Linked DNA regions of Homo sapiens. The protein of the gene in region 1 purifies or fractionates together with the protein of each later gene. This does not show direct contact. Each region holds a gene or a part of one and is shown on either strand. Other genes may lie near its edges.

The links.
Region 2: the proteins of RASL12 (region 1) and RAP1GDS1 purify together in Homo sapiens (affinity purification with mass spectrometry; one large-scale study listed by BioGRID and IntAct). This does not show direct contact.

What each region holds. Positions count from the first base shown.
Region 1 is NC_000015.10:65,063,995-65,070,229, forward strand, and holds the start of RASL12 (ras-like protein family member 12), read right to left. Parts: upstream 3,998-6,235; 5' UTR 3,842-3,997; coding exon 3,739-3,841; intron 1,280-3,738; coding exon 1,223-1,279; intron 1-1,222.
Region 2 is NC_000004.12:98,418,384-98,421,883, reverse strand, and holds part of RAP1GDS1 (rap1 GTPase-GDP dissociation stimulator 1), read right to left. Parts: intron 3,228-3,500; coding exon 3,093-3,227; intron 1,866-3,092; coding exon 1,740-1,865; intron 630-1,739; coding exon 490-629; intron 1-489. UniProt on the Homo sapiens protein: Acts as a GEF (guanine nucleotide exchange factor) for the Rho family of small GTP-binding proteins (G proteins) that stimulates the dissociation of GDP to enable subsequent binding of GTP.

The sequences.
Region 1 (6,235 bases):
TGGGGAAAATAATCCAAGACTGCAACACCCATTTTCTAAAGGCTAAGATCATCCAGACACCTTATGGCTCTCAGTGAACAGTTTACAATAGACAAATGTTATACATGTGAGCTTTAAGCAACATTTATACTAATAAAATCCTGCTTTGATTTGTTTTAGAAGGGAATCTAAGCTATTGTGTATGGGAATCCATTTGAGGAGGAAGGAAAAGCAAAAATGCATTGAGTGCCTACTGTGGGTCAAGTACTAGGCTGGATCTTTTACATGTGCTATTTCTTTAATCCTCACAGCAATTCTCTAACTATTTTTTAATGCCCATTTTACAGATGAGGAAACAGTAGCTCAGAGAGGTTAGCTGACTGGCTCAAGGTTGCCAATAAGGAGCAGAGCCAGGTAGGATTCAAACCCAGCTCTGACTGACACCGAAACGTTCCTTTTTCCAATATACCATGATGCAGCGATGAAAACAACAGTTGTTTTCTCATACGGTTAAAAAACTGGTTCAGAAGCCAGCACCACTAGAGAATTTCTCGAATGTCCTGCCCAGGTTTTCTGGAAGAGAACACTGAGTGACCATCTTGAAGAATAATACCTATTTGTTTTTGAGTTTTTTTTTTTTTTAGACAGAGTTTCCCTCTGTCGCCCAGGCTGGAGTGCAGTGGCACGACCTTGGCTCACTGCAATCTCCGCCTCCCGGGTTCAAGCAGTTCTCCTGCCTCAGCCTCCCTAGAAGCTGGGATTACAGGCACACACCACTATGCCCAGCTAATTTTTGTATTTTTAGAGACGGAGTTTCACCATGTTGGCCAGGCTGGTCATTAACTCCTGACCTCAGGTGATCCACCCACCTCAGCCTCCCAAAGTGCTGAGATTACAGGCATTAGCCACCGCACCCGGCCCAAGAATAATACCTGTTTGGATGTGGATGTCTTGCTATGTTTATTTTTATTTTTTAAAGTTTTTTCACACCTCATATTTTAGGGTAAATCAGCCTCTCTTAGTTCTGTGAATTAGGCCAACCCCCCAGTTGTCTGGGGTGGGCTGTGGAAGGGGTATTTCTGACACTTAAAACATTTTCCCCCATGGGCTGGGTCATCCTGGCGGCTTCTCCCTTCTGTCCCCAGACATGCAGTCCTGGTCAGTGCCCACCCACGGGGTGGGTCCCAGGAGAGCACTCCAGATGGGGCACAGGCAGCAGAAGGTACGGGGAGTAGTTTCTTACCCAAGTTGGGGTCATATTCACTGATAAACCTCTTGGTCAGAAACTTCACGGTCAGGGCTGCAAGAAGCAGAAAGAGGTTGGCTCCATCTCCGCGGCCATGTCTAGCTGCTGGCCCCTCGTTTAAGGGAGGCCTTATCTAACCTCTGTGATCCCCGGCTGACACCAAGCTCAGCTCTCCCAGAGAATGAAGCTAGGGAACTGAGGAATTGGTTTGAAAGGCTCAGAAGGAAACCAGAACTACGGGGAGCCAAGTGCCTCTAATTGCACCGTGGGAATTTTTTTTAATGGCAAGGAAAGCAATGAGTGGCAAGCCTAAGGGGTGTTTGGAAGGTATGAACTCAGGGGTCAGGACCCATGCAACCATTACCCTAGAGTCAGCCTGGTGAAACCTCAACTGAAGGGAGGTGTCGCCCACCCCGGACAAGTCACAGAGATTCTGAAGTGTGGGGCTATTTACTCCAGGCTTTAGCTACAAGCCAAAAACACAGGAAGAGCAGAGTTGATTGCAGTGGTTGATCTTTGGGAAGGGTATAAATCCCCAAGTGCCTGGGCTTTCCAGGTAAGGTCCAGGTGAGGTCTGTGTCCCGAAGAAACACACTCTGGTCCTGGTCTCCCACATCGCAAGTCTTGGCTTTCTCTGGGGCCTCTACACTCATCATGGATATCTCAGCAGAATGTAAAACTCAAGAATTAAGCTCTCTTTGGTTCAGAGTGTAGCCATATAAAGCAAAGACCAGCCAACTACTATACTGGACCCTCAAAAAGTAATGTTCGCTACTGCTTGTTTGGAAAGAAAGAAAAGAAAAGAGAAGAGAAGAGAAGAGTAGAGAAGAGAAGAGAAGAGAAGAGTAGAGAAGAGAGAGAATAAAAGAAAGAGAAGGAAAGAGAAAGAAAGAAGAAAGAGAGAGAAAGAAGAAAGAAAAAAAAGAAAGAAGAAGAGAGGGATGAAGGGAAGGAGGGAGGGAGGGAAAAGAGAAAGAGAAAAAGGAAGGAAGAAAAGAGAAAGAAACAAAGACAGAAAGATAGAAAGAAAGAAAGAAAAAGAAAAAAGAAAGAAAGAAAAGTAATGGGATGCCTGTAATTCCAGTGCTTTGGGATTGAGACCAGCCTGGGCAATGCAGTGACACTGTTATCTCTAAAAAAATTGAAAAATTAACCAGGCATGGTGGTATGCCTGTAGTCCTAGCTACTCAGGAGGCTGAGAGGGAAGATCACTTGAGCTCAGGAGTTTGAGGCTATAGTGAGTCATGATCGCGCCATTGTACTCCAGCCTGAGTGACAGAGACACTGTCTTAAAAAAAAAAAAGTGACATTGTGAATAAAATCCTTAAAATTCTTTCCTAGGATTCCTAACGGTGTCAGTTTGCAAACTAATACCCAGGGAATACATATTTTAAAATTTAAATTCTTTCTTTTATGTAGTCACTGGCTAAACGGTACCGGTTACAGAGCTACGGATAACAATCTGATTTTCAAAGGGCAAATCTTTCAAAGGAAGAGGGTAATCCCTTCTGTAGGAAAACCAGATTCAGAGTCCCCTCTCTGGGGGTGGGGCTGGCTTCAAAATCAGAGAGTAGGCCCCCAGTGAGTCTTACAGAACACTCTGGGGAGGAAACCCACAGCCAGCTGAGCTTGGGTTGGCCATCACTAACGGCTAAAACTGGAAAAACAGCCAGTGGAGGACCCCTTCTGCCCTCCCTCCTTCAGCCAGCCAGGAGTGGCATAGTTCAGTGTTGACACAAATTATCTCAATGGAAGCCCAAGATCTTGGCTCATCAAGGACAATCCCATGCACCTGGAACCATAACCCAATGTGTTTCCAGAAAGTTGAGAGGGGTCTGGCTTGAAACGAACACATTTGATAAGAATGCACAACTTGTCCCAGAATCCCAGGGAATGGGGGTGGGAGTGGGGGAGTGGACCTTCCCTGAGAAATCTCAACAGCTAGTGACTTCACCAGCTCCCTTCTACGGGGAGGGGGTGTGGAGGGGGAGGGGTTGGACGGGAAGTCTTCCCCCAAGCCTAATCAGGGAGTAGCAAGGCTGCGACTAAGCTCAAAGAGGCGCCTTGGGTAGGGGGATCAGTGCCCAACAGGTCCCTTTGAAGCCAGTCGCCAGGACTGACTGCTGGCCCCAGGGTAGGTCATAGGGGTGGGGGTTGGAAGGTTGGTGGCAGGGGAGACCGACCAGTAAAGGACTCCGAGACACACAAGAGAGAGGGGAGAGACAGCAGGGGTCACTGATACGGAGGACAGAGACAGTGGGAAGACACAAAGGGAAGAGGCAGGCAGGGAACAGAAGACAGAGATGGTGGAGCTGAGCACAAAGCCGAGAGAAGAGAAAGCCCGGCAACAGGGAAACTGAGGCAAAGAAAATCACGGTGTCTTGTGCGACCCTCCTGGGTGAAGGAAGCTCCCCAAGCCAGTGGAAGAACCTGCCCCCAAGAGCACAGCCCACTGTCCCCCCACCCACGCCCAGCTCCGCACTTGGCGGCTCAGGCTCCCCGGCGCCACTCACCAGACTTGCCAGCCCCGCGGCGCCCCAGGATGGCCAGGTTGACCTCGAGGGGCGCGCTCTGAGGCCCGCTGCCCGCGCGGGGTTTTCCAAACACCGAGGACATGGCGACGCCCTGGACGGCCACGCAGGTCTGCGGCCGGTGGGCCCCGCGCAGTGCGCCCGCCCGTCGGGGCCCAGGGGAGCGGGATGCAGGCTTCCCTGGAGCGCGCGGCCCCGGACCCGTCGGCGTCCGCGCCCTCGGCCCCGCGTCCAGCGGGCTGCCACCCCGCGGGGAGGAGGGGCCGGTGGAGCCTGGCGGGCGGGGCCACCCCAAGCGCCACCAAATTCCTTGTAAGGGCTGCGGAGCCCCCCGCGGGGCGCGCTCAGCCGGCTCCTGGAGCAGGGAGGGAGCTCCTGCCGGCCGCGCCCCCACCGCCGGGCTGGGCCTCGAGGACCCTGCCGTCACCCTCCCGAGCGCCCCCAAACCCGGCCGGGAAGGAGCAGAGAAGGAGCCCCAGGGCTAGGGGGAGAGAGGGGAAGGATGTTTGCACTCTTCCCTGAACCTCCCACTCAATCTCTTTTCACCAGCAAGAAAATCCACCCCTCCCTTTGTTCTACCAAGCCAGCCCCGCCTCCTCCTCCAGGAAGCTTCCTGGGTTCAATTCCAAGCCTTGCCCTTTCTTTAGCTCAGCCTTGGCACTCTATATCCCCAATCACATTATTCTGCCCTTTGCTGTGGAGACTCTAGAGGCCTCACTGCAGAACCCATTCGGAACCCAGGCTTCTGGGAGAGGGGGCGGGGCGGAGAGAACCCCTCACTAAGATTTCAGGGCCAATATGGGTTCAGCTTCAAGAAACCTAATCCATTCTGAATTACTGTCTCTCCCTAATGGGAGCTAATGAGTTGCATGTGTTTGTGGCCTGTTGTGTAAATGGGGTGTTTGTTCTAAAACCTGGCACTGCCTCTTGCCTACAGCAATTCTGGGATTGGTGGTGAGCCTGGCAGGGGTCCCCTGGTCATTCCCCTTGGGACTCAGGGTAAATCTGGTCATACCAAAGACAGGGCAAAGGGCCCACACCACGAACCTGGACACTTAGGATCTAGTGCTAGCTCCTGCCCTAGAGTAATCTTGGGCAAGTCACCTTGCTTCTTTGGGCTTCGGTGTCCCCATATATAAATACTGAAGGAAGGGGAAAATGAAGCAAAATAGAGAGTGACAGAATCAGCCCTGGGCTCCAGGCCTGCGTACATTCTAGAACCCTGTGAGGCATCTCTTCTGGAGTACGCTCCAGGTTAGAGCAGGGAAAGGCATGGGAGCCTCAGAGACCTCTCACGGCAGCCCTTCTCCTTCCCCTTCCCGCAGATGGTTAACTCATCTACCCACCCACCCACAGAGGAACCATGGAAAACCAGGTGTGCAGGCAGGGCCCAGGGTCAGAGCTGGATGGTAATAACGACTCTTCAAAGAAGAACAATTATTTTCCTGGCCAGGACATGAATATTGACTCAGCCTAGTTGTGTTTTGGGGAAATCATGGTAAACCAGCTGTGTTATTAAGGTAGTGGGTGGAATTTGTTTAGATTACACTCTCAGGCCAGAATTAGTCACACAGCTAATGGCCAAGGGTTTTCCTTTGAGTTGTAGGAGTTGAGAAAGTGGGAGCCAAGTTCCAGTCACATCCCTGGGCTGGCCCCATTCTGTGAAGACAGACTGGTTCCAGATGGGGCCTTTGGGGATAGAACCAATCTCAATGGACAACTGCTGGAGGCAGGGCTAACTGTGGGCCTGCACGGGCCCAACTGCATGTAAACTTAAGCTCTGCTACTTCTCAGCTTGTGTGATGCTGGGATGTTACTTGACCTCTATGTGGTCTGTTTCCTCATCTTTAAAACTTGACCAACCAGGAGATGGGAGCTGCAAGATTCTAGCTCAGTCTGAGGGTGAACTCTGTAACCATCTGACTGTCCATAGTTAGAAGGGACTGTCTTTGGTGGAACTCAACCCCTCTCCCCTGACACTGGCAGCAACCAAGGGAGTGACCACGTCAAGGAAGTGTTAGAGAAGAGACGCCTTCATGACTCGAATGTTGCAGTAAGATGACCCTTAATTCTCTTCCAGTTCAGAGATTATTTGAGCTGGTGGCCACCTGGTTACTGGGGCCCTCAACTGTGACAGCTCATTGCTCAAAGTCTGCCCCTTCTCTGAGGCTTGGGAGGAAAACAGTGCCCACCTCATGGCTGCGACCTATCCTTTTCTCCATCCCCAGTTTCCTCACCCAGGGGCTGCTACTGTCAGACCCTGGAATAAACTACTTTGCCCTTCTGGGTCTCTGTTCCTCATCTTCAAAATAGGGACAAACCTGGGCAACATGGTGAAACCCTGTCTCTACAGACGCATATAAAAAAATTAGCTGGGTATGTTGGCATGCAACTATAGTCCCAGCTACATGGGAGGCCAAGGTGGGAAGATAGCTTCAGCCCAGGAGATGGAGGCTGCAATAAGCTGTATTTGTGCCAC
Region 2 (3,500 bases), on another chromosome or scaffold:
ATAATCTAGATACTAAATCAGCTGCTGAACTGCTGGCCTGGGTACTCACTATTGTGATCTTTAAAATAGCTCATTTGTTCATTTATTGGTTATCTACCATGTGCCAGACAGCGGCACAGCCAGCCACAAGAATGGATTTTTTTCTAACTCTGTGAGCTCTGGACATCATATACTATCTAGGTACCATTTAATTTCTAAATATCAGTAGGCTGCATGGTCAATGCCTGGCACAAAGAATGTTTGACACTGATGCTGATAACGGTGGTGGTAAAAGTAATAACAACAATAGCAGCAGCAACAACAGCAACCCCCATTTACCGAGTGTTTCCTATATCCCATGTATCAGCTAAGCACATTATATACATGATCTCACTGAATCTTCACAATACTTTCAGGTAAATATTATCCCAGTTGTTAGGACCTACAATGCTGGGTTTCTGAAAAAGACACTCTGAAGTTTTCTAGTGAACAGTTTCCTCTGGAACTTACTTTTGATTTACTGTGTCGTATAAGGGCAGACAGCAGTCTGTTTGACTCCCCCATCACACCAGCATGATCTTTGGCTTCACACCATTCCACCAAACGCTCCACTAACTTAACATTCTTTCCCAATTGTTCAGCAGCTTCTGCTATAGGAAAGAAGGCAAACCAAGGAATGAATCACTAACAGACAATCAGTTGAAATAATTCGTACAGATTTGAGAGTGTGAAGGACGTCTAAAAAAACACAGCACGACAATTTCATTAAAGCTAGAACTGCAAATATTCCTTATGTGATGGGCTATTTGCCTTCTTCTGTAACACTGTGAAATTTTATAGAAAATACAACAACAAATGACTTCATACTCTTTTGGTTAAGCCTGCTAGTCTGTTAGTGCTCTGGCGGACTATAATGCAGGGTTCTTAGAAAGACTCTATGCAATCAATATAGAAAAGGGTTTAAAATTTAGAAATAAGTAAATAAACATAATTCATTCCTAGGAGTGGTTCTGACTGCTGTTTCTGCAAACAGAAAAATGCTCTCCCTGTCTGGAAGACAAATTTAAAAAATTTTTGACTGTCACAATAATGAAATTTGATTTCAAAGCCAAGGTAAAAATGGGTATAGAATGCCAAAACACAACACCCCCTGCCGAAACTGATGAATAAAGCAACCTAAAACCAGGACTATAAGTACTAATAAGGAGAGATATGGTATAATTTCTATTTAAAGTCAATTATAGGCTGGACATGGTGGCTCACACCTGTAATCCCAGCACTTTGGGAGGCTGAAGTGGGTGGATCGCTTGAGGCCAGGAGTTCAAGAGCAGCCTGAGCAACAAGCCCCATGTCTAGTGAAATTCCAAAACAATTAGCCAGGAGTTGTGGAGCATGCCTGTAATCCTAGCTACTCAGGAGGCTGAGGCAGGAAAATTGCTTGAACCCAGGAGGCGGAAGTTGCGGTGAGCTGAGGTCGCACCACTGCACTCCAGCCTGGGTGACAGAACAAGACTCTGTCTCAAAAATAAATAAATAAACAAATAAATAAATAAATAAATAAATAAATAATATGTATAAATAAATAATTATAACAAGCATAAAAATTAACAAATGGAGTTCCAAAACCAACTTTTAAATCTTTTATTTGCTATTTTTTATGATTACATAATCCTAAAAGCTAAAAACAAGTCCTTTTTCAACTAGAGGCACATTAAGACTATCATATGAAAAATGCAAGTTGGGGAAAACATTTCTTTTACCTTGTGCATCTATTAACATTCTTAATGTTCCCAGAAGTTTGAACTGAACAGGAGGCATTTCAGATTTAAGAAATTTCAAAACTGCCTCTGTGACCCCAGCTGATAACATCTTTGCTTTATTTATAACTGGAGAAAAAGAGAGACTATGGTTAAAATGGTATTAGCATTCCTGTTGATAAACATTCAATTCAATACAGGTTTATTAAGTATCTTTAAGATCCATGTTTTATTTTTCCATTTAGAAACAATCTTGTCACTTTTTTGTCAATTTTAAGAATGGAATTCAGTTGTTTATGTGTGTGTCCGTATCCTATTTGTGTATAAGCGGATAACAGACAATATAATAATTTTTATGACAGTATCATGGCTTTTTAGATCCAATCCAAAACACTTACTTACATAGTTTGTAAAGGAAATCTGAAAATGTTACCCTCTTACAACAAAAAGCACAATTCCGTTTTTGATCCAACTGTGTTAATATAAATGTTATAGACATTAATAAATGTTACTATCCTATGTAAACCAAATGAATTCAAATGGATTGGATCATCATGTAATTGTACTATTTCATCTAATCAGAAATTTATTTTTAGAAAGTAGGATAAAAGAATAGTTTTAACTATCTTTTGTTGTATTTTCCATAATACAGTGATTTCATGACTTCCAAAGGCACATTAAGGCTATTTTAAAAAAATTGTACATCTGCTTATAGAAAAACAACAACTGAAAGTCATTCTTGAGTGGACTCTGTTAATTGATGTCATTATTCTACCTCAACTAAAGATGCCTAAGGCCTGGTGCAGTAGCTCTCACCTGTAATCCCAGCACTTTAGGAGGCAAAGGTGGGTGGACTGCTTGAGCCCAGGAGTTCAAGACCAGCCTAGGCAACATAGTGAGATCCTGTTTCTACAAAAAAAAAAAATCAGCTGGGCATGGTGGCACATGCCTGTAGTCCCTGTTCCTCAGGAGGCTGAGGTGGGAGGATAACTTGAGCTCAGAAGGTAGAGGCTGTGGTGAGCCAGGACTGCGTCACTGCACTCTAGCCTGGCTGACAGAGTGAGACCCCATCTCAAACTTAAAAAAGCTTAACTATAAAACATGATGAAAATCTAACAGTTCGCAAAAGGTAACAGGATATCTGAATGAAGGCAAAGATTATTCTTGTACAGTCTCACAAAACTTATTTAACATATGATCTCCATTTATTAGCATGAAAAAATGTGAACAATGTGAAGACTATTTTTTTTTAAATTTTCTTCATCAGAGCAGGTTCACAAATCACATACAGTTAATAGCTTCCCCAAATGATGGATTTTATTTTGTACACAGCTGCCTTCTATTCTTAAGTCTTACCTGGAATGGCCAGGTTTCTGAGGGCACTTAGTGCTGCATGCTGTACTGTTACATTTCCATCTTCTACATGTCTGTCCAGTAAATCCATAAGTTTTTCTACAATCCCATTGTCTACCATATGAATACAATTTGCATCTGAAAAAAAAAACACACATCTTTTTCTTCCTCTTTAAAATATCTATAAATACTTTATAATACTGATGTCTGGCTATTATCTACATTAGGGAAAATGGAGCTATACAATAAAATGAATTCCAAATCTTTCTCCCATCAGATTTATAGGTTTTTCTGTTTACTGAGTGAGAAGTGTTAAAAAAAATTCTTAAACTAGATAAAAGTTTTAAAATCAGAAAATTACCAGAAAAATCTTTAGTTTAGAGCCAGATAATATATCAGAAGTAGAAACAC